3 separate regions of the Homo sapiens genome follow, and all the other regions are linked to region 1. Evidence: fine-mapped expression QTL. A gene starts in region 1. Each other region holds a variant in brackets. All regions are shown on one strand. Distances are between the middles of the regions.

Evidence for each region.
Region 2: its variant is fine-mapped to the expression of RAPGEF1 in Th2 cells (Schmiedel 2018, PIP 0.95).
Region 3: its variant is fine-mapped to the expression of RAPGEF1 in whole blood (INTERVAL, PIP 0.99).

What each region holds. Positions count from the first base shown.
Region 1 is chr9:131,735,136-131,743,310 of GRCh38, forward strand. RAPGEF1 (Rap guanine nucleotide exchange factor 1) reads right to left here and starts at 4,941. Exons shown (of 27, transcript NM_001377935.1): 1 at 4,635-4,941. The coding sequence starts at 4,695. RefSeq lists enhancers at 1-90, 387-681 and silencers at 387-681, 4,325-4,654, 4,705-4,754, 4,905-5,164.
Region 2 is chr9:131,691,387-131,699,561 of GRCh38, forward strand. The region is part of intron 1 of RAPGEF1 (Rap guanine nucleotide exchange factor 1); the gene reads right to left. Among named protein-coding and RNA genes, the nearest start is that of RAPGEF1, 45 kb to the right of the region's middle. The variant C/CT (reference allele first, on the strand shown) is at 3,411.
Region 3 is chr9:131,593,689-131,601,863 of GRCh38, forward strand. RAPGEF1 (Rap guanine nucleotide exchange factor 1) reads right to left here. Exons shown (of 27, transcript NM_001377935.1): 16 at 4,511-4,622; 17 at 2,610-2,685. Among named protein-coding and RNA genes, the nearest start is that of PRRT1B, 52 kb to the left of the region's middle. The variant G/A (reference allele first, on the strand shown) is at 4,707.

The DNA of each region.
Region 1 (8,175 bases):
CAAGAACAAGAACAACTCCAGGCCCTCAGGAGGTTGCTCCGTGAGGCAGGCGATGAGTGAAGCCACTGAAGGAGGGAAGAAAGGAATGAGTGACTGAAACTGACACATGCAGTCCAAGGACCTTCTTCCCTTCAGCTGAGGAGGCCTTGGTCTGCTCCCACCCCAGGAGACTGGTCCCCTACCCCACTGCCTGTGCCCAGCTAAGTGGACCCATCCTCCGCCTCTCACCTTAAGTCCCATTTTGTCACAGGAGCACAGGAGTTTCCTGACCATCCCTCCCCACTGCAAGTCTGATCTCTTGCCACCTTCCTGCTCACCCTGTGACACACAGAGGATGCCTGTATTCAGGGCAGGCAGCACGACATCTGCTGAGTTCACCACTGAGTCCCCAGAGCCTTGTACGGAGCCTGATGGAGCCGGTGCTCAATCCCTGATGAATGAGGGATGGAGTAATGAGTCAATGAAGGGATGGGGCAAAGGTTTCAAAGTCCAGACAAAAACAAACAAACATGAATCATTTCTCCGAGGAGGGGATGCAAACGCAAATGTCAAAAGTCCAAGTGGGCCGTCGGAGGTGTGGCTGGCTGTGGGAGTGGTGAGGGGCTCTGTGGGAGTGTCCGCCACCTGACTCCTGCCCATAGCTGCCTTGTAGGCAGGAACAAGCGCTCAGAGTTACCAGAGATTCTCATTTTTCAAGGAAATCAGGAACCAGGCTTTTGAGATTTTTGAGTGACTTCCTGATTTTTCAATATTGACCATCAATTCTTTTGTTTTTTTCCTCAAGAACACGTGCGGATCCAACCCAACATATCTGTGGACTGAATCCAGCCCGCAGCTGCCAGTCTGTGCTTAAGCTCCAAAAACATGACGGTATCAACTCTCCTCGCTCAATGTCTTTATTGGAAGATATATGAGCAAAAAGAACCACAGTAACTGCTTGCACAACCAGAACCATGTTCATTTGTTCTCCAAAGCAGCCTCTAAACAGCTGCATACATCTCCCATCAGTCTTCCAGAACAAATCCCTCTGAGCTCCTAGGGAAGAGCCTCTTCTCCTCTGCAGGCCTGCCCACAAGCTCACCCTGGGAGCTCCCTAATCTGTCCAGCTCTCTTCTACTCCCTACCTCCTCGTCATCTCTAGAAGCACTGTAGAGTTTAGAAAGCCTCCCCTGCATCCCAGCTTGTTCCTGGCCCTCCAAATTCAACCTTTCTCCACCAGGCCTCACTTGACAGGCCCCCACCAGCCCAGCAAGTTGTCCCTGTGCCACCCTCTGGCCCAGACTGTCTTGATTCCCCATGGCACTTGGGACCCCCAAATGTGAGGCCTATGACCTTGTGTATTCTCTGAGGATATACATAGGTATGGATGAACCCCTCAAGGCCCTGCCCCAGCCAGGCACTGCTGCATGAGAAAGAAAATGTCCCAAAGAACAGCAATGACTCAAAAGATCTCCCCCAGGGGTTAAGGAGAGTCCTGCACACCAAGGAGGTATCAGGCAATGCAAGGGGGCGGGATGAGGAACAGGCCAGAGCTGCACACTATGCGGGATGTGAAGGGGTTTCCTGTTTACCCAAAAAACCCTGGATGCCTTAAGCACTGAGAACTAAAAACGCTGGTTCTTCTACTTTCAGGGAGAGGAGATTATGAACATATTTAAGCAACGTTTCTGTTGCTTTGAGATAACAAAACAGCAAAACTCCAATCACAACAATTGTTTGCCTGGTGTCAGGCTCTGCCACCACTTCACCTAAGGGCCTCTCCTCTGAATCAAATACTCCTCTGGAGACTGAATAGTGGGAAGTCCATTAAAAAAACTCCAACAGAAATCTAACAAAATGTCGTCTAAATGCAAAGGGAAGTTCACTGAGAATAGCCAGCAGAGACCACCAGGAAAGGTCATCCTCACTCCAGGCGCGCCCCAGTCTTCCTTGGCAGTTGTAATCTTTCACTATGATTCCTATGAACTGCAGCAAAAGACCTTCTGCAAGGAGGCTGGACTTCCAGCCAGCTCCACATCTGCAATCCCCAATCTGCAGGCGAGGTCCTGACCCTGGTCTTGCCAATCTCAGAACTCTTACTTTTTCTGCTTCTCACAAAATGCATCTTCCTCCCACACTTTCCGCAGCTCCTGGTCAGCCCCTTCCCCTCTCTCCTCTTTCTCCCTGTCTCCACCAGGTATATATCTCAGCCCTCTCTTCAGAGCCTAGCACAAACACTGTCCCCTCCAGTGTCTTCCTCATTCCCGCACTCATGACACCCCTCTCTCACCTGTGTCCATGGCAGCACGGTCGCTCGGTCTGGCAGCCTGGGTAGCTTAGAAACTGTGCTAGGTTAGACAAGCTTCTCTGGGAGCAGGCACTTTCATCTACAACCCCCTAGCAGAAGGCGGTGCCCAGAAAAGGCCCAAGGACAAACTATGCTGAAATGAACTGGCCTCAGGTCTTTCTCCCAAATAGCAGAGAACTCAAATGAAGAGTCATTTCATTCCCAGCGGTTTGGGCAGCTCATGGGATGACAGGCAACTTTTTCCTTTTTTTAAAAAAAGAGGCCCAGCGCGGTGGCTCACGCATGTAATCCCAACACTTTGGGAGGCCGAGGTGGGCGGATCACGAGGTCAGGAGATCGAGACCATATTGGCTAACACGGTGAAACCCTGTCTCTACTAAAAATACAAAAAAATTTGCCAGGCGTGGTGGCAGGCGCCTGCAGTCCCAGCTACTCGGGAGGCTGAGGCAGGAGAATGGCGTGAACCCAGGAGGAGGCGGAGCTTGCAGTGAGCCGAGATCGCACCACTGCACTCCAGCCTGGGCAACAGAGCAAGACTCCGTCTCAAAAAAAAAAAAAAAAATTTTTTTTAAAGTAGCAATGAGGTCTCGCCATTTTGCCCAGGCTTGTTTCAAACTCCTGGGCTCAAGTGATCCTCCTGCCTTGGCCTTCCAAAATGCAGGGATTACAGGCGTGAGCCACTGTACCTGGCTGACAGATGATTTCCAATCCGGTTCATTTTACTTTTCTGTGATTTCCAAGTTTTGACAATGAACATAGAATATTCTTATATTATAAAGATATAAAACATAATATAATCTTATATTAGATATAAAAAGATATAATATAATCTTATATATTATAAAGTTCTTATAAAAGAACTCAGTGAATGTTCTTTTTAAAATAAATTATCCAAGTTTCCCAACAGTACCGTTCTGACAAGACACTATACAAGAAGTTCCTGAGAAATGCTGCACAGATGAACCCAAGTTATTTCTGGAGCAGCAGGTGTACAGGATGGCGACTCATGGTCACTCGGCAAGGCTGTGGGGGCTCAAATTCAGTGAGAAAAATACTCAAGAAATGGCACCTGAACCCAAGCGCCCTGCCCCTGAGAAAAGCACCCTGGCTTCTGGTCAGAGGGCCAGGAATGAATATACTAGGGGCCTGCCGCCCTCTTGCTGTCTGGACAGCCGGAACTCACTGAACCTCTCTGAGCCTGTAAAACTGGGACCATATTCTTTCCCACAGACTAGCTTCAAAAATTTAAGAAGCAATGCATTTTAGGTGCTAAGAGTTAGATATATAGTAAACCCTCAATAAAGCCTACAAAAATGTCCTTCTGTGCTTCAACCACAGCCTGCAAAAGTCATATTGCCTTGTGGGTCCGCTGCAGGGGTGCACCCCACAGAAGTATCCCAGATTCAACCCAGGAAACATAAGCAACTTCCACAATCAAAGCCACAGACCTCCTTTGCAGCTCCCTAAAAATCTGCTTTCCCTCATTCAGCCGCCAAGCTAACCTGCTACCGGGGTTATGACCACAGGGCATGCTCCCAGTACAGGAGCCCAGGAGCACCCGCCCACTTCACCTTAGACCCAAGAATTCGCATTTGCCCTGCAAGGTGCTGCAGGCTAATAAAGCCTGGGGCCCCACAGGCTCGACAGTCATTGAATCTTTGGAGACTCTATTTCCAGGACAGGCAAACCCAGGGACTCGGAAGGTAACTCCCCCAGATTTCTAGGAACACACAAAGAGACGAGGTCTGCATCAAGATTTACCATCTACTCCAACCCACCGGTCCCCCACCTGCCCTCCTTGCAGAGCTGAGCTTGATCGGGGTGGGGAGGGGAAACTTGACTACCTCCTCAAAATACCCCCACTCATCCAGCCTGCTTCCTTTGAAGCAACCGAAGTGGACGCTTCTCGTTAAACTCGAAGCTCGTTAGAAATGACACATTTTACAGCTCAGCTGGGTTCACCCTCCTAGCGCCGAGCCCAGGCCGGGCACCGATCGCTGCAGCCGCAGCAGCACGCGGCCCGGGCTGTTCTTCCCCTGCTTGGGGCTCGAGCCATTTTCGGAAGTTCCCGGGGACCGCGGAGCGGCTAGCGCGCCCGGCCCCGGGTTGCAGGGGCCCCGCCCGGCCCGGCCCCTGGCGCCCCCGCAGCGGCCGCTTCCCCCCGCGCCCGGCAGGCAATGGGCCTGGAGGAGAAGCTGCCAGGCGCCCCGGCGAGGCCTCGGTGGCTTCACCCCGCCCCGGCGCACGGAGGGCCGCACATCCCGGGCGACCCGCGCTCGGCCCGGGGAGCGGCGGAGCCCCAGGGCCGGGCCCGGCCGGAGGGAGCCGCCCCACGCCCGCGCCTCACCTGCTTTCTCGATCTTGCCGGACATTTCCGGGCTGCGCCGGAGGCCGAGGCCGCCGCTCATCGGGCCCGGGCCGGGCCGCCGCGGGGCGACAGGGGCGGCGCGCCCGCCGCTCGCCTCGGCCCTGGCTCGCCACGCCTCAGACCCGCGCCGGCATGGCGGGCTCCGCGCGGCCGCGGCCCTGCGCTCGGCGACCGCGCTCCAGCCCGCCCGGGCCCAGCCGCTCCCGCCGCGCCCGCCGCCGCCGCTCCGCCTCCCGCGCGCCCGCCGCCGCTCCCCCGGCCCGCGAGCCGGCCGCAGCGCAGCGACGCCGCCCGCCCGCCCGCCGGGCCTCGGCCGCGGCCACGGCCACAGCGCCACCTGCCGGGCGCCCGCCGCGCCGCCACAGCGCCCCCTGTGGGCCCGGAGCCGCCCGAGCCTCCCGCGCGACGCGCGAGACGCAGCGCCCCCTGCCGAGCCGGAGTCCCCACGCCGGGGCCTGGGGCCTGGGGTGTGGGGCCGACCCCGCCTGGGACTCCGCATTCCTCTGCTGTGGGACCAGAGTCACCAGCTCCAGACCTGGGACTGACAGCTCCAACCCAGGGTCCTCGGTTGCCCAAGAGCCTGGCCTGCCCCCTCACCAGAGACACAGAGAACCCTCCTGGGTCAGATTTTCCACCCCAGGACGTGGAACTGACGCCCACCCCACCCTAGCATCATCCCGGACCCAGCATCCCCTGTGGGCCAGAGGCTCCACACCAGGGCCTAGAACTCACTCTCACCAGGACTCAACAAGCTCTGCTGGCTGGGAGCCTGTCCTGACCTCCCCCAAACCAGAGATGCAGCACCCCCTTTTTTGTTTTGTTTTTTGTTTTTGAGACCGAGTCTCACTTTGTCGCCAGGCTGGAGAGCAGTGGCGCGATCTCGACTCACTGCAACCTCTGCCTGCCGGGTTCAAGCAATTCTCCTGCCTCAGCCTCCTGAGTAGCTGGGATTACAGGCACATGCCACCATGCCCAGCTAATTTTTGTATTTTTAGTAGAAACGGGGTTTCGCCATGTTGGCCAGGCTGGTCTCGATCTTCTGACCTCATGATCCACCCACCTTGGCCTCCCAAAGTGCTGGGATTACAGGTGTGAACCACTGCACCCTGCCCGCACCCCCTTCTTAATTGGAGACCCCACACCAGGGCCTGGGAGTGGCCTCATAGCACCTCCTGCCAGCCCAGAGGCTCCAGCCGGGGAATGAGTCCACTCTGGCATGAAAGCCCTCTGCTGGCCCAAGGTCTATGCCAAGGCGGAGGATTCATTCTCCACCCCAGCCCTGCATGTGGGACTCAGTCACCCTGCCAGCGAGAGCCACCTGTCCCGGGCTGGGGTTGGCCCTACTCAGGCCTAAATGTCCCCTGAGGCCTAGAGCCTCCATGCTGGCCTGGGCCCAACTCCCTCAGGGACACAGCACACCCTGCCTGCCCTGCTTATTTGACATCCAGAAGGGCACCCTGGGGCTCAGCTGTGGAACTTTTCTAGTGTGGAAATGAGTTCATTAAAAGTCGTGGCTGGGCACGGTGGCTCACGCCTGTAATCCCAGCACTTTGGGAGGCCGAGGCAGGTGGATCACGAGGTCAAGAGATTGAGACCATCCTGGCCAACATGGTGAAACCCCATCTCTACTAAAAATACAAAAATTAGGTGGGCATGGTGGCACACGCCTGTAGTCCCAGCTACTTGGGAGGCTGAGGCAGGAGAATCTCTTGAACCCAGGACATGGAGGTTGCAGTGAACCGAGATCATGCCACTGTACTCCAGCCTGGTGGCTCCAGAGCGAGACTCCGTCTCAAAAAAAAAAAAAAAGTCGTGGTTGGGCACAGTGGCTCACGGCTGCAATCACAGCACTTTGGGAGGCTGAGGTGGGTGGATGACTTGAGCCCAGGGGTTCGAGACCAGCCTGGGCAATGTGTGAAACTCCGTCTCTACTAAAAATACAAAAATTAGCCAGGCACGGCGGCACCTGCCTGTAGTCCCAGTTACTTGAGAGGCTGATGAGGGAGAATCACTTGAGCCCTGGAGGCAGAGGTTTCAGGGAGTCATGATTGCACCACTGCACTCCAGCCTGAGTGACAGAGGAAGACCCTGGCTAAAAAAAAAAAAAAAAAAAAGGAAAAAAAAAGTCATTTAAGAATCAAAGGATCTGCTAAGTCTAAGCACTATTTCGGGTTCTGTGGGCCCTACAAAAGTGGGCACAATTGGTGCTTCCCTCCAAAGAGTTCACAACTTAGCTGGGAAGTCAAAGTTAAATCCTATAATACAAGTAGTAAATAACAACAAATTAGTAACGCAAGTGATGTTCCAATGTGGGGCAATTCTGCTGCCTGCTTCCTGTTGTTAGTCTAAGATGGAATACAAAGAAGTAGCACGCACCACCTGGGCTAGTTTTCCCTCCTGTTTCCCCCAAAATAAGTAAATTAAATAACCTAGTGATGGGGACAGGATTTGGGGGAGGTGCAGGGAGGAGGAAAAACTGCTAATGTTGTGAGAGATTCTTATTCCCATCTCCCTGGACAGTCTAAAGGGTCACCGATTCCACAACTAAGAGCTAGTCAGGCCGGGTGTGGTGGCTCACACCTGTAATCCCAGCACTTTGGGAGGCCGAGGTGGGTAGATCACCTGAGTTCAGGAGTTCGAGACCAGCCTGGCCAACATGGTGAAACCCCATCTCTACTAAAAATACAAAAAATAGCCGGGCGTGGTGGTGCGCGCTGGTAGTCCCAGCTACTCAGGAGGCTGAGGCACGAGAATCACTTGAACCTGGGAGGCAGAGGTTGCAGGGAGCCAAGATCGCGCCACTGCACTCCAGCCTGGGTGACAGAGCGAGACTCCCTCTTTAAAAAAAAAAAAAAGGAGATGGTCATAGATGGCAGCCAAATTTCCCATCATCATTTCATCAGTTGCAGCCCTCTAGAGGTCAAAGGCAAATCCAAAGATTGACAAATTCATTTCCCTCTTCCACCTGATGAATGGATGCTCTGATCCAGGGTGGCCCTGTTCAGCCCTCTTGGCAGATGCCTTACCAGGCAAAACTGGCCCCTGGTCCCAGGCCCAACCCCAAAACACACTCAATGCTGCCCCCAACCCTTCTAGGCTTCTGAGCTGAGAAGAGCCGATATTTTAAATCCAAAATCCTGGTTGAAAAGTAGAAAACTAGACTGCATGGATACTAGGTGCAGTCAGGGGTTTGTGAGAACACAAATATATTTAATAAATTATGACATATCCAATGACAAAAGATTTGCAAACAACAAAGTACTTTGCAAATGGACATTATGGTAAATCAGGGTCACAGAACTTACTTAATAAAGGCTATTCATCAAAGATGTTTATAACTATAGTAGAACACACACAAGGTAATGAAGCAAACGGATTCCCAAAGCCCAGTTCTGGCTGACTTGGAACCTTCTCATGAGCTGCTCCTGCTGTCTAGAATGTTCCCTCCCCTCCTCTCCACTTGGCTGGTCCCAGTCATCTTTTGCTTCTTAGTTTCACTGTCACTTCTATGGAGAATGCT
Region 2 (8,175 bases), 44 kb before region 1:
ATCTGATCATCTGATATGCTGTCAGTCATAATTTTGGTTATCATGTTAACTTGTTGTATGCCACAGAAACAGCCAAATTTCCTTGTCAACTGAATCATTATTATAATGAACCCTCATCAGATCTCTAATCATGGTCGCTTTAAGTCCTGTTATCCACAGTTAATTTGCTTTATTCTGATGCTTTTCTCAATGCTTTTTGCAAGCAACTATAATCCTAAAATGTTGTGTTTTCAAGGAGATTCATGGAAAGGATGGAAAGGACTTTGACAAGAAGAGGTCTCTAATAACTTTAAGATCATACCATTGGACTGGCTAAACATTTCCAGAACTCTAATAAAGAAACTGATGGGCTTGTGAAACTACTGACCAAGATCAAGCAGAACAAAAATTAATTACATGAGACAGAATAAAATGATAAATAACAATTGTGGGTTTTATGGTTTTTAATTTGACATATTGCTGGTGTTTTATTTCTCAGATTAAAAAAAACACCTTTTTCCTTATATTAGCTTTCAGTAATTTGGTAAAGTTATACTCTTATGAACAAAAACGAAATATTTATGTTTTCTCCCTACCTAATATCTCCAGAATTCGGAAATTATTTGTGACTCTTCTTATCTTTGTGCTAATATAGTTATTTCCATTAAGTTCAATATGAGTCTGCTCTCATAACAGAATATAGTTGGAAATATCAGTTTGGCTTCCTAGCTTTGAGAGTCCTTTAAAAGTCCAATCTGAGATTTCTTATCCAAAGTTCCAGCAAAGCAAACTTTGTGATCAATCACTAGCATTACTGCAGTTGTGTAAATAATCAGGCCAAGTTTGACGAGACTAAGCTCATTTTGCAAAAAAATTCACCTCGCTTTATCTTTAGTAGAAATGAGGGTGACTGTAGAGAGAAAAACTATGTTTCAGAAGAAAAACTATAGTACACCTGTTATTAGATTGTAGCCCTGTTCGTTGTTTTTGAGTTTTTACTATTTGTAGGCTGGAACGGATCCAGAATTCTTCTACTTTCCTATTTGGAAACATCTGGCTACAACTCTCCAAATACACACAAGAACTGCTCTGTCCCAGAAGCCCTACAAGCTGGAGCTTGACAACTCCATGTATATTATGAGGGACAGGTCTCATACCTGATATGTGGGCCACAGAGAGTTCACCCAAACACCGGACGTTATAATCACAGGCAGTCAAACTGCAAACCAGGACAAGCTGACAACTTCATGCTGTGGACAGCTTTTCCCAAGACATCAGAACAAGATTCTTTATCATAATGAGGCTCTGACTCCTCTTGATTTTTCCTTGCTTATGCCTACCTTTTTCACTTGGCAGGATAATGCTACATTGCCGGAATTGCACAATCAGTAGCTTCTACAGAGACTTGATGAAAAAACGGATCTGTCATGCCAAACCTAGTCATGGGATGGTAGGTAACAGAAATGCCACCTTCTAGCCGAACAGGAAATAATCTGCACAGTTGCTAATGCTTCTTGTTGCACATGGATAAACCGAACAAACAGGCTGCTTGGCTAAAACAGGTAGATTCCCCATCTGGCTCATTATTTGATCTAAATGATTTCAGTTGGTTTGGTTCATGGGGACCCTGGCTAAGGGGCATACTCCAAACTCTTGGTATTATCATCCTCATAGTCATTAGCCACAACAGTAGTCTCCCTGGTGCACTGTATCCTCTCAAAAAAGTCTTAAATGTGCATATGCAGCCATCTGCTGAATGGTAAATGTTCTCTCTCTGGCTGGAATAATGGAAACTCCAAGAAATGCATGATAATGAGGACACCCATGAATGACGTGTTAAGATTTAAACCCCAAAATAATGATGACGGAGTAGTGCTGATGCCCTAAGTTTTGGTCACACTGTCTCCTAGGTGAGAGCATGACAAAAAGGGAGAAATTGTTAAATTAAATTTATAGGAGGTCATTGGTTTGAACTGAGCTCCTGCAATATGCCCAATAGACCAAACCAAAATGGTGTCACTCACGCTCAAGTTCCATACCACTAAGCCAAAATAAGATTTTTATCTGACCTTCAGAGAAATCAGGAGAGAGAGAGAATAGCCAAATCCCCAAACAGGCCAGTTGTAGCTGGCATGATAAGAAAGTCCCCTCTGCTTTAACCTTTATAAGAAAAGTAACTCTGAAACAACCAATCTGCTTTTTATTTTCTGTTTCTGCTTTCCTCAGTCCTTTTCTTTCTATAAAACCAACCTCCTCTGCTTGGCCCATCAGAACACTCAATTCTATTCAAGTGTTTCTCAATTCTGGAATCACAAGTAAAAGCCAATTCAGGTCTTTACATTGTTGTAATGTTGTCTTTTGACAATACCTTTCCAAACCCCAGATCCCATCCATTCCCAAGTCCTCTTGGAGTTTCCATTATATCCAGGGAATCTGTCCCACTGCCACCACCCTTATCTGCCTGCAAATACAAGGCAGCTTAAGAATTCCATTCTTGCCATTCCAAGGCTTTCTCCCACTGCAGCCAGGGCAATCTCATCAATTTTTCAAAGCACAAATCTCGTATCCTCTCAATCAGTTTCTCTCTCTCTCTCTCTCTCCAAACACTTAATGGCTATTTAGCTTGAGACTGAGTTTAAGTGTTCTTAAACTCAAGGCTGTGACAGGCCCTACAAAATCCATCTCACCCCCTCTCCCACCTCTGCCTCAGGTCTCTGCCCACTGTTTTCTCACCTAGACAGTATCCTCTCCCTCCCCAAGGGCCCACCTCACATTTCACCTACTTTACTCTGACTTACCCTTCAGATCCTAGCTCTGATCTTTCATAGTATTTACTAGTCTGTAATTACAGGGCAAGGGCTGGGGGCAGAGGAATTCTGCCTTTTTCAGTCAGGGTTCCAGCAGAGAATGAGGCCTAATACCCTAGGGCATGCATTAGATGTACTGAATGAACTTCTCTCCCAAGCATCCAGAAAGCATCAGCTGTGTCACACTCCTGGAAGAGCTGAAGAGCTGAACAAATAGTCACAGAGTTCTGTGTTGTATGGTTCAGATGGGGAACCCAGGTTTGAAAAGCTTTGTGCCAAATACTACTTGACACAGAGTAGGTGCTCAAAGGTTTGTTAAAATGAAACAGAAATGTAATCTTGCAATGAACCCAAGGCTGGCACGCTCTCGCTCACTCTGCTGCAGTCACACTAGATTCGTGCTGTTCCTTCAATACCTACCAGGTCCCCCTGCCTGGCATGCCTGTGCCCCAGGTTTATCTGCTTGGCCAACTGCTTCACCTTCTCAAGACTGGACGCAGATATCACCTTTCAATGAGGCCACCCCGGACACTCTCTTTAGCTCTGCAACCTGACCCCATGATCCCTGGAATTCCTGATGCCCCCTTATCCTCCTTCCTACAGCACTCATCACCTTCACACTTT[C/CT]TTTTTTTTTTTTTTTTATACTTTAAGTTTTAGGGTACATGTGCACAACGTGCAGGTTAGTTACATTTGTATACATGTGCCATGTTGGTGTGCTGCACCCATTAACTCGTCATTTAACATTAGGTATATCTCCTAATGCTATCCCTTCCCCCTCCCCCCACCCACAACAGGCCCCCGTGTGTGATGTTCCCCTTCCTGTGTCCATGTGTTCTCATTGTTCACGCACTTTCTTTACATGCAACTCACTAACGGATAATGTTGACTGTCTATTGTGTATTTTCACCTACTAGCAATATAGGTTTCATGAGGATATCTGTAACCCAAGTGGCTAAAACAATGCCTGGCATGCAGCACATGTCTAATCAATGTTCATTAGATAAATGCATGAACGTGCTTCTTCTGAGTTACCACTCTCTCATAATTCGGAAGCACACAGGGACTGCCTGGTTCCAATTCTGTAGATTCTTTAGCTCAAATCCCCGCCAATGATTAGAATGCTTCCCTGTGTCCGGTTTCAAATTCCTGAGGCAGAACCAATTGACCCGGCTTGTCTTCCCAAAGCAGGCCACACGATAGAGGTCAATGGTAGCTACCCATGGATGAGCCATTTAGTGTAGAAGGGCCTCTTGGCACAACCGAAAAAGAGCAAAGCCATCTGAAGCTATTCAGTGTGGAAGCAAAAGCTCTCCCCAGATTGCAAGCGCACTGCTGTGTTACAGCAGAGGCCACACTGGGTATCAGTGGAAGCAGGGGCATCAGGAGCGAGTTGGATCAAGCTAGACGTTTAGCTGCCAATCCTAACCTTAGTGGGGGCTGCTGCCAGGACTGAGTGGTGTACCTCAATGTCTGGCTCACCCAGAAGAGGTGCATCACTCCCTCAGGAAACTTAACTGTCCATATGCAGCCATCTGCTGAATGGTAAATGTTCTCTCTCTGGTTGGAATGATGGAAACTCCAAGAAATGCATGATAATAAGAACACCCATGAATGACATGTTCCCATCTCATCCTCTCCATAAACAGATTTGTTGACAAGTGTAACCAGCAAACATTTAATAAAAAAATCAATGTAACTCTGCAGGCAAGCAGGCATTCTTTAGAACTCCTCACCGCACCCCGTTCCCTGCTGCAGATTTTATAATGACCTGAAAGGCAGAGTGGCTGACACAAGCTGGATAGTTCTGGCTCAGGAAGATGTCTCATGAAGCTGCAGTCACCTGAGGCCTGACTGGGGCTGGAAGAGCTGCTTCCCTTCCCTGTGGGCTGCTGGCCAGAGCCACAGACCCTCACCTGTGACCTCGCCTCACCACAGGACAGCTGGTCTCCCCCCAGAGCAGGGGATCCAAGAGAGACAGGCTGGCGGAAGCTACAACATCTTGTATGACTTCTGCTGTATTCTACTGGTCATAGGACCAGCCCTGATCCAGAGAGGGAGGGGATGACACCTGAGTGTGAATACCAGGAGGCGGGGATCCCCGGACCATCCTGGAGAAGACATACCACAGTCTGCTCATGTAGACAAAGACCTATTTTTTAAGGGCCCAGAGCTAACAAAAGGTTTTTACATCTTAAAGGGCTTTCCTTAAAAAGGAAAATAAAGCAGCATATGTGACAGAGACCACAGGTGGCCTGCAAAGCTTAAAATATTTACTATATGGTCTTTATAGAAAAAGTCTGATGACCTCCGATGTACACTGTACTTTACAGATGATTTAAGGGATCTTTCAAGGCTAATTCTTCCTCTGTGCCATGTTCTCTTTATGCTCGGACTTTAGAATCTATCTCCCAAGTGAGCAACTCTATTGAAACAGGTGCTCAGCGAACTGTAGCTCTGAATATTATAGTGGCAAGCACTAAGAAATGAACAGCTCATCATAACCTGAACAGAAAGATAATAATCAACAGTTCCTTGTCCATAAGTAGGTGTCTGATAAATACAAACTCAGTGAATGAATGACTAAATGGATACGAAATACTACAAAGACGCATCTTGAAAGTATGGAGCTATCATGACAATAAAAATATCTTTAACCAACGATTTACAATATAAACACAACAACATGTGAAGGTGCTATAATAACATTAACAGCTGAAATTTATCGAGGGCTAACTCTATGCCAAGTATTGTCAAGCATTCTCGTATTCACGCCTCATATGCTAAGGCAGGTGTAATTAGTTGCCTTCATTTTACAGATGAGCAAATTGAGGCTGACGGAAATTAAGTAATTTCCCCTGGATTACACTGATACATAAGTAGCGGGGCTATTTTCTCTTAGCAAACTACATAAAAAAATAAAGAGCAACTCTGCATCCTGAATGTCATGCCTGAGATGAGCTTGCTGAAAGCGCAGCAGAGACAGCAGCCCTCTGCTGGCCCAGGCTTCTCCTCCATCCCTTCTCGCTCCCTCCCTTCCTCACACTCAGCTGGCTGGGATCCCAACCCAGGGACTCCAAGAAGGGCCCAGCTCCGGGCTCCCTATGTAAGCAAGGTCACAGAGACTTGAAATGGGTGATTGAACCTAATTACTCACTGCTCTGCTCCCTCTATCCAAAGAGAGCTTGAAAACATTTTCACTGAGGTCTTTGCTGAGATTGCAGACTCAGCACAGGACCTGCCTCCTGCTTTCCTAAATGAGCGAAGTGGCTTGCAGCGGCTCTAGCTCTGGGGCCAACAAGGTTTTGACGCTTGAATTAGGAGAGGGCAGAGAGAAGGCTGCAGCTCTTGCAGCAAAATGCAGGGCTGTCAGGTATACACCCAGGACACACTGCAGCCACTGCAACAGAACAGAACTGAGCTCTAGGCCACGGGTTTCCTAGGCGGACATAAAGAGATCTCACTCTCCCTGAATGGCCTTGGAGATGGCTCAAAGTGTCCACTCTTCCCAGATTCTTGCACCTGAGGGTACAGGACTTGCTCAAGACTATACAGCCAGTGTCAGAGACAAAGTTCACTGATGCTAATTCAAATTTTCCCACATTTTGGATTCTGCTCTTGGAAAGCTTGAAGTCCAGTTGGTTGAAAAGACAGTTGATGATGACAAGTTCTGGAGGGAAGAGGACCTGGGCAGAGGGAACCTGGACTAGAGGCTGAGTGTACCTGTGTCAGGGCCAGAAAGAGAGGGGCCAGGATAAAGGCAGACAGAGGAAGTCAGAGGCCTGGAACAAAGTGGGGCGTGAAGGGGAACATGTGTGACTATCTGGACAGGAGAGTCAGCTGACCAAGGACAAGGGCAAAGACTGTCAAAGGGCACTGAGGGACCAGCTGAGAGCAGAGACATGAATCTGTGTCAATAACACACCACTGTGACCTCAAAGGGATTCTCATAAATACAGCTGTCCAATCCCCGCACAGTAAACATGCAAGCCACAACAAGATGATCACCTCCCTCAGTCCACCCTGATTATGAGATAATCATCATCCACAAAAATATTATTCCCATGCCTAACAAGCAAAGGGAGGAGGGGCCCTCTAGTCTGCCCTTGTAAACAGACACTTGCAGGAAGGGAAAATAGGGAAGAAAGGGGCTTTGACGTCAGAGACCAGTTTAGGTCCCAATTCTGCCACTTACTAGCTGCATGATCTTGAGCAAGTTACTGGATGCTCAGTGACCTGGTTTTCTCATCTGTAAAATCACAATCATACTACCTACCCCAAAGAACTCTTGTGATGATTGAAAGCAACATGCTTAGCTCACAGACAGCTGTGACAAATTGTTTGCAGTAATGGCCAAACGATTCCCTGCTCCTCATACCCACAGCTTGGCAAGATGACTTTGCACTCTCCTGTTAGAAGGGCGGGTAGAAGGAGGGGGCAGGTCTCTCTCTCCCTTCCCCTTGAATCTGGGCTGGCCTGTGGCCTGCTTTAGCCAATGAAATAAAGTAGAGGTAACTGTGCGGCTTCTGACCTGGGGCCTCAGGGCTGCCCCCCTTCCCCGACCAGGTGAGCAACCCCACTACGGGAGGGACCCTGGGCTAGCCTGCTGGAGGCCCAGGGATAAGCCCTCCCAGCAGCTGATTGTAGACACTTGAGGAACCCTAGGCAAGACCAGGAGCCCAGCAGCCCAGCCTGAACTGCCAGCTGCAGAAGTGTAAACTAGGTGCCCAGTTGTTATTTAAGCTCCCTAAATAGCGGGGTGATTTGTCAGCAAGGACTGTAAATACTCAATGCACCACAGCTGATAATCAGGACTTCTCTCTCGTCCGGCAATTCTCCTGGTCTTGAGCGATGTTTCCATCTCTACCAGGTCATTCCCATCAGCATTCAACCTTGCCATTATTTCACCCTTTATGAAAAAACTTTCCCTTGACCGCAATACCCTTAACAACTACCACCTTGTGTCTTCACTCCCGCTTTCAGCAAAACTCCAAGAACGCCCATGCTCCCTGTGGCCAATTCTCCTCTGCTCATTCTTTGACACTTTCACACCCAACACTCCACTGACACTTTTTTTTTTTTTTTTTTTTCTGAGGTGCAGTTTTGCTCTTGTTGCCCAGGCTGGAGTGCAATGGCGTGATCTTGGCTCACTGCAACCTCTGCTTCCCAGGTTCAAGTGATTCTCCTGCCTCAGCCTCCTGAATAGCAGGGATTACAGGCATGTGCCACCATGCCTGGCTAATTTTGTATTTTTACTAAAGACAGGGTTTCTCCATGTTGGTCAAGCTGGTCTCAAACTCCCGACCTTAGGTGATCCGCCCGCCTCGGCCTCCCAAAGTGCTGGGATTACAGGCATGAGGCACTGCGCCTGGCCCCACTGACACCTCTTGTC
Region 3 (8,175 bases), 140 kb before region 1:
GTGGGGTGGGGCTGGCAGGTGAAGGAGGCTCCGGGCTGGGAATCACAGCAGGGCCCATCCGCACTGTGCTCAGGCTCATTCCTCGGCCCCCACACCCACCCAGTTCACTGTCAAGCTTGGATTTTTGTTCAAAGAGTTTGGGGAAGGAAGCAGAGATGGCACCAGCATAGACCCATACCTGCTTCTGGAAGAAGGGGCCCAAGTCAACTGGCCTTTGCGGGTGCATCATTGCCAGTAGCCATGACAACTTCGTGGGACTCGCTGGTGAGCACTGGGCCATGCCTTGAACATATGCCACATCCTTCAATGCCCAGAGCAATCCCACAAGGACAGAGTCCTGTTACCCTACCGAGAGAGGAGGAGCCCAGGCACGAGGCCACACCACCCGCAAGCAATGTGGCGGGGTCGGCGCCCATGTCTGCCCAATTCCAGAGCCCTCCCCCATCTGCTGTGCCCTGGATTATGGCAGATGGGACAGCGCCTGGCTTCTGGGACGGGCAGTGCTGTGCCACCCCTCTAGAGATCACAGGACTCTCGATGCGGTCCTGAGCACTCTGTGCGCCCTGGCTCACCTGGTCTTTGAGACAGCCCTAAAAGGCCCCGAAATTGTCCCTCATTTTCCTCCTAAGGAATCGGAAGCTCCGGGGCTAAGTGACAGGCTTGGCACACAGTTGTCAAGGGATAGACAGGATCTAAGCTGAGGCCTGAGGCCAAGGCTGACCTGACCTTCTCCCATGCAGGTCCTGACACCTGAGAGCAGAGCCGTGCAACCACAAAGCACCCCCACACGGCCTCTCCCTGCCAAGCCCTGCTTGGCAGGCTGGGCTCCACGGGCCTGAGCCACGGGGCTCCCAGCTGCTCGTGATGCTGGTGCAGTCTCTGGCTTGCAGGATGCACCTGCCCAAGGAGCTTGCTTTGTTACCTGCCACAGGGTGCTTCACCCTCCCAGTGGAGCCATGGCTTCTGCCTCAGTAATACTTCCTACGTAAAACTTTGGTTCTGGGGAGCCTCCAACCCTTCTGCTAGTAAAATCAGGCAAAGCTCCCACCGGCACGGAGCGTCCTCTCAGCAGGTCCAGCCAGCAAAAGCCAGAAGCCTCTTGGCTGTCCTGTCTCAGGGACCCCTCCAGCCTTGGCCACAGCTGGCTGTACCCGACAGGACAGTGGAGTTCACCCTTTGGAGCCGAGGTCTGAAGCCAGCTCCCATTTCAGCCCCTCGCTGTGGACAAAAAGGAAATGAAAGTCGCTCCCATGCCTGGCTGAGTATGGAGCCCCCTATGTCAGGCAGGGAGGGGGATTCACTGCAGAGAAGCCAAGCAAGGGCTGCACTCGGCGCTCAGGATGCTGCTGATCACGCCCCCAGCACCGCTGACATGCGGGGCAGGTTTCACACTCCCTCACGTAATCCACACAACAACAGGCACCGTTCACCCCTTCAACAAGTGGAGTCGGCTCAGGCCGAGAAGCCCGGGGACTGCCCAGGGGCCCTCTGAGCCTGTCATGGCACAGCTGGGGCTAGGATGCAGCATCGCCAGGTCTGGGCCCTGCCCTGGTCAGAACAAACAAAGGGTGAGGGAACAGTGAAGGGGAGGGCGGAGCAGTGGCTGCGGTGAGTTTGTGGGAGCCATCTCTTCTTTTTCTCTAATTTTCTGCAATGTAAATATTTTTTAGTACTACTTCCATAATTCAGAAATTCCCCGAGTCACTCTGGGTCACATGTTTTGGGAAACGTGCTGAGGAAACACAGGGACAGAGTCCCTTACAGAAATGAAACGGGTTGGGCTAGGATTTCAAGGTGGGGGTGTTTTCATTCCCTCCACAATTTACTTCACCATTGCTCTGACATCATCTTTTAAATCATTTTTTTAAACGTAAAAAGAGAAGCAGCGTGTGGAGAGACTGGCCGGCCAGGTGGTGCTGGCCCCTTGAGGGCAGGCAGTGAAGGGTGCTGTGGCCATGCCCCATCAGGTCACTAGCACCTCCTTTCCAGAGCATGACTGGGAATGACTTTGCTAGCAGAGTCCACCCAACAAGACGTTTTAGGGATTAGGGGACGGTCCCTGCTTTTCCAGCCCTCTCAATCAGCACACTGAATGCGTGGTAGGGTGGGGCAGCTGTGTGCTGTGAAACTGAGGCCACTGCTACAGAATTGAAGGTTCCTGGACAGAACAAACCTTCAAGAATTTCCTCGTGGAGTATGTGAGTGAAGTCCGGTCTAATGGTCTGCAACAATAGAGTGACTCAGCAGTCAGGAAAGGAATCAAAAGGTACCTGCATGTTATCTTAAGTTTAGTACTACTGGGTGACATGCCATCACTCAAGGCGCTGTCTGTGGTGCGCTTAGTATGCGCTGAGCCCCTCAAGGACCCTGGAGGCCCTGGGGTCACTACCTTGTACCAGCGGAGGACAGATGCCACGCACGCCTGGAGTTGAACATGATCTACTTGTCTTCCAAGGTGGGCTCTCCCTGCTCTGACTCAGGCGCACCAGGACTGCTGATCAGACCTGCTCAGGGCTGTGGCTGCCAGGAGGGGACAGGATAGCGGTGGGAGGCCGAGTGGCACCCGGGGCAGGACCAGCCCCAATCTAGTGAGCTCACTGACACCCTACCTTTCCTGTCAGTCTCAGTAGCATGGACCAGTAAGATGTCCCCAGATCCTCCGCGGACGTCCGGCCCGTCATCACCCTGTAATGAACACAGCCAAGGAAGGTATGAGGCAGAGTATGCCCTTCAGAGAATCAGTTTAGGAAGAAACAGGCAGGAATGAGATGACAAAATGCCCTGCAACCCCAAGTCCCCTCTCCTTCTGTGCTCCTCGGCCCAGGAGCAGTGTGGCTGCGCTGCGAAGCCAGGGGTGCCCTCCAGACTCACCTTGTGCTTGGTGACAGGCACAAACTGGACTGTGTCTGGGAGCTGGATGGCCTGGGAGCTGCCCCGGCACCAAGGCACCAGGGCATGCCACTGTTTTGAGCACACAACTTGGGCCAGGGGACATAGCACCTTCCATCCTTCCTTGCTCACCAAACCACAAGTCAGAGGTGAGGTAGGACCCCCTGGGGGCAAGACAGTCCCCAGCCTTGCCCAGGATGCCTGTGGAGGCAGCAGGACTATTTCTAAGCATGTTCATGTTCCCCAAAACTGCAGCAAGCGGCCCTACATCTAAATCCGTCTCCCCAGGTGGAAGTAGAAGTTACTTGCATTGGCACAAGGTTCTTCTGTGGGGCCCTTCCTTAAAGGAGAGCAAAGCATTACAGACAGAAATATTCAATGACTTCTGACGCTGCACACCTGCCACCAACCCACCTGCCTCTTAAGAAGCAAGTCTTGCTTCCATGTGGGCAAACAGAGGCCACCCAGCGTAGAGCCAAAAAGAGCTGTGACTAGGGCCAGGAACAGAGGTCCAGGACAACCCCCCAGGCCTGTTTCTGCCCCTGGCCCTCAATGCTCCTTGCTCTGTAACGCTGGAGGGACGGAACCAGCCCTCTCAGCTGCGGTACACACTCCGGGACTAGCCCACCTTTTTATTTTTAGGCTTTGGTATTTTACCTCCTGACTCCAGAGGCCTGAGATTGTCTTGGGTTTACCTCTAGGAGTAGGAACTATGCCTTTGACCTGATTTTAAGGAAGAAATTTATGGCAAGGATCTCTCTGCAGAGGAGCCCAGCTGTGTGAGTACCCTCATCAGCCCTGCCTGTGTGTGACAGCCCAAGGCGCAGACACATTCCTGGGCTGCTCCCTGCCATGGCCAGAGCCAGCGCATCCTTGCCTGGGAGTGCGCAAAGGGCAGTATCTGCCCTTTTGTCCATGTGTCATCAAATCGAAGCCCCAAAACAGTTGCCTCCTGGTGCGGGCCAAGGCTGCTTTATGAAGCCGCTCCTTTGTACTTCTAGCACTGCACGGCAGGAGGGAGAGGCAGGGCACTCTCTGTCCTGCTTCCTCTCCACTCTCACAGGTTTGGGCCCTTTTTCACCAACGAGGTTCTGCAGGCAAGGCACAGGACCAGGGAATCCACAGTGTCCAGGCCTGAATTTTCTTTTCTTTTTTTTTAGAGATGGGTCTTGCTGTGTTGCCCAGGCTGGTCTTGAACGCCTGGACTCAAGCCATTCCCCTGCCTCTGTCTCCCAGACTGAAGCTACAGTGGAGCTATTTTTTCAACCACAGAAAAAGTTTCCCATTAGTGAGGGCCGGCCACATGCAGGCTCTGTCTGCAGAGCATTTACAGGGGTTCCATCTCCACACCCTCAGGAGTTCTGGCATCTTTAGCTAGAGAGGCTGCAGAACTTGACCTGTGTAAGATGACTTTCTATAAGCATCAGAAGGAGACAGCACACTTCCCCTGGAGTCTACCCCTCCAGAGCCCACAGCCCAGAGGCTCACCAGGGGCATTGAAAGACTTGGTCTCTAAGCCTCCTAGGGTTGTTCTGCTTATGACAAGATCACATTCTTCTCTGCCCCACCTGCTCTCCTCTGTGGGGCCAGGCTGCAAAGCCCCAGCCCGGGAAGTTCTCACCTCCTGCTTGAGCGTCAGCCTGGACATAATTTCGTTGTGGTCAATGAGGGACAGCTCGTCCACTTCCTCCTCCGACTGAGCCGACTCCAGAGCATCTGGTGACTTTGGGGCCCTGCGGGGAGAAGTGGTTTGTGTTGCAAGTGTCAAACCGGCTCAGCTCCCGATGCCTGGAGGCCAAGGCAGTGCCGGTGTGCAC[G/A]GCTCGAAACCGCTCCCGGAACATGCCTGCCCCGATGGCAGCTACGTCACTATGGACTGGATCCTCAGCTCTGCTACTGACTGGCTGTGTGGCCATAGGACAGTCGCTGCTGCCTCTGGATGTTCCATCTGTACACGGAAGTGATTCCGCTGGGAAAATAAAAAGGTTCCATTAAGCTGTTTGAGTGATGGTCTCAGCCACTCCCTGCCAAGGCCCACCGCACAGTTAGCATTTAGGGAGAGGAGGAGCTAAGGGGCAAGCAGAATGGGAGAGAAAGCTGCATTGCTCTTGAGGCTGCTCCCCAAGTCTTCTCCAAGGACCGACTTGCCACGGGACCCTTTGCTTGGCGCTAAGAAAGAGCTGTGAACCAAGCAGACATAGCCTCTTGTCCCTGAGGGTTCAGTCGAGCAGGAGACAGAATTTATTTATTTGCTTTTTTTTTTTTTTTGAGACGGAGTCTCGCTCTGTCACCCAGGCTGGAGTGCAGTGGCGCAATCTTGGCTCATCACAACCTCCACCTCCTGGGTTCAAGTGATTCTCCTGCCTCAGCCTCCTGAGTAGCTGGGATTACAGGCACATGCCACTACGTCCTGCTAATTTTTGTATTTTTAGTAGAGACAGGGATTCACTATGTTGGTCAGGCTGGTCTCGAACTCCTGTCCTCGTGATCTGCCCAATTCGGCTTCCCAAAGTGCTGGGATTATAGGTGTGAGCCACCGTGCCCAGCCACTTATTTGTTTTTTTTTTTGAGACAGAGTCTCCCTCTGTAGCCCAGGCTGGAGTGCAGTGGTGCGATCTTGGCTCACTGCAGCCCTGACCTCCTGGGCTCAAGCCATCCTCCCACCTTAGTCTCCCAAGTAGCGAGGACTACAGGCACAAGCCACCATGCCTGGATAATTCTGTTCATTGTAGGGATGAGGTCTCACTATGTAGCTCAGGCTGGTCTTGATCTCCTGACTCATGTGATTCTCCTGCTTTGGCCTCTCAAAGTGTTAAGATTATAAGCATGAGCCACCGTGCCCAGTCTTTTTTTTTTTTTTTTTTGAGACAGAATTTTAAAACAAGTGGTCACAGTAGCACAGAGAAAGGGGAAGCCCAGAAGGGTACCATGAGCACAGCCAGGGGGTCTGGCCTCGTCTAAAGGTCGGGAGGCTTCTGGAATGGGATGGGTGAGCCGAGGCTTGCAGTACTGAGCCTAAGTTGCCGGCTGAAGGATGGGAGAGAACATTTCCCACAAAGGGGAAGGTGGGACGGCCGGGGGTGTCCAAGATGAGTCTCCCAGCTTAGGGTGTTCTGGGGAGAGTGGAAGCTGGGCCTACAGATATGCCTGGCTTTCCCCTGGCATTTTCTTCCATGTTCCTCTATTTTATTCTGGCCCGTCTTGTGGTCATAGGTCACATTTTAACCCCAGGTATCTGAGATGTAAAAATATGTGCCTTTAGGCCAAACGTGGTGGCTCACGCCTGTAATTCCAGCACTTTGGGAGGCCGAGGCGGGTGGATCACTTGAAGTCAGGAGTTCGAGACCAGCCTGGCCAACATGGTGAAACCCTGTCTCTACTAAAAATACAAAAACTAGCTGGGCGTGGTGGCGCTTGCCTGTAACCCAGCTACTTGGAGGCTGGGGCAGGAGAATCACTTGAACCCAGGAGGTGGAGGTTGCAGTGAGCCGAGATCGCACCACTGCACTCCAGCCTAGGTGACAGAGTGAGACTCTGTCTCAAGGGAAAAAAAAAAATGTGCCTTCAGTAAAAGAATATGGATGGGTCAGAGTGGGCCCTGCCCAGTCTCGAGAAAATCCCTGCTCCACATCTCGTCAATGTTCACCCTGTGGTTTGGCCTTGATGGAGGGACAACATCCCATAATTATTTCTGAGCAGTCAAAGTGTTCATCCTTCTCTTTCACGAGAACCATCTGGAACTCTGAAGACGATACTTTGGGGTCCAGTGAAGCTAGTGGCATACCCACGAGCTGCATTTGCTTGGCCCACACACTCTGCCCCAGGTATTAACCTAGAAACCACACCATTCCTGGCTTCACACCTGGGGAAAGCTCAGTCTGGGCAGACAAGTCAGAGAGACAAGTCAGAGAGCACAAGAGTGGCCAGGAGGCAGGCTGGGCAGGTGGCCCTCTTCAACAGGTCCCTATGCAATGCCTTCTCATTTCTTTTTCTTTCTTTTGCTATTTTTATTAACTGCCTCTTCAACCATTCATGCTGAGCCCTGATAATGACAAGTGGGCACTCCCTTGCTCTAAGGTCACCAAAGACCCCAGAGGTGGCTAAAGCTTGACCTAAGGAGGGAGGAAAAGCTTGAACACATGGAACATTTCATAGAGAAGGGGAAGTCAATGTGAAGTTGCAGGTGGGAGTGCCCATTTGCAGATCCTACACATCATATTTCACAGGTGCATACTGGGGAAATCTACTACGTATTTCTACACTTGGTCAGGTTTGGTTTATGCTAATATTGAAAAATGTGGCCAGGCATCATGGCTCACGCCTGTAATCCCAGCACTTTGGGAGGCTGGGGCAGGTGGATCATGAGGTCGGGAGATTGAGACCATCCTGGCTAACATGGTGAAACCCCGTCTCTACTAAAAATACAAAATAAATAAATAAATAAAAACTTAGCCGGGCATGGTGGCACATGCCTGTAGTCCCAGCTACTTGGGAAGCTGAGGCGGGAGAATCGCTTGAGCCCGGGAGGCGGAAGTTGCAGTGAGCCGAGATCGCGCCACTGCACTCTAGCCTGGGCGACAGAGTGAGACTCCGTCTCAAAAAAAAAAAAAAAAAAAAAAAAGTTATAAGACATTAAAGAGCTGTAATGACTAAATGCAATGAACAGCTCCTGATCTTGGCTGCAAAAAATTAAGATATACAAGACATTCTTGTTAGCAACATCACATGCACACATATGTCTAGAAATGTCCCTGATAACAAGTTTGTAAGTGGAGGGGGTGTCTTTTACACTCCCTATCAACTTGAAAGAGGCCAAGACCAAGGGAGGTTGGCCTGGGATTTGAAAAAGAAAAGACAAGGCTATCGTGGGTAATTTGTAAGGTAGATAATATAGGTGCAAACAATCAAGAAGTAATGGCAAACTACATGTGAAGGCCTTTGCAGGGTGGGGTTATTAGTGATTTTTCTTGCTTTCTTGCAGTTTTCTATGCTTTTCAACAGTTTCTATCCTGAGCTTGTATTATTTGAGAATCAGAAAAAAAGGAAGAGGGCCAGGTACAGTGGCTCATGCCTGTAAGCCCAGCACTTTGGGAGGCTGATGTGGGAGGATCGCTTGAAGCCAGGAGTTAGTGACCATCCTAGGCAACATAGCGAGACCTCGTCTCTACAAAAAACTAAAACAATCAGCTGGGCGTGGTACTGCATGCCTGTAGTCCCAGCTATCTGGGAGGCTGAGGTGGGAGGATCGCTTGAGCCCGGGAGTTCAAGGTTATAGTGAGCTGCAATTGT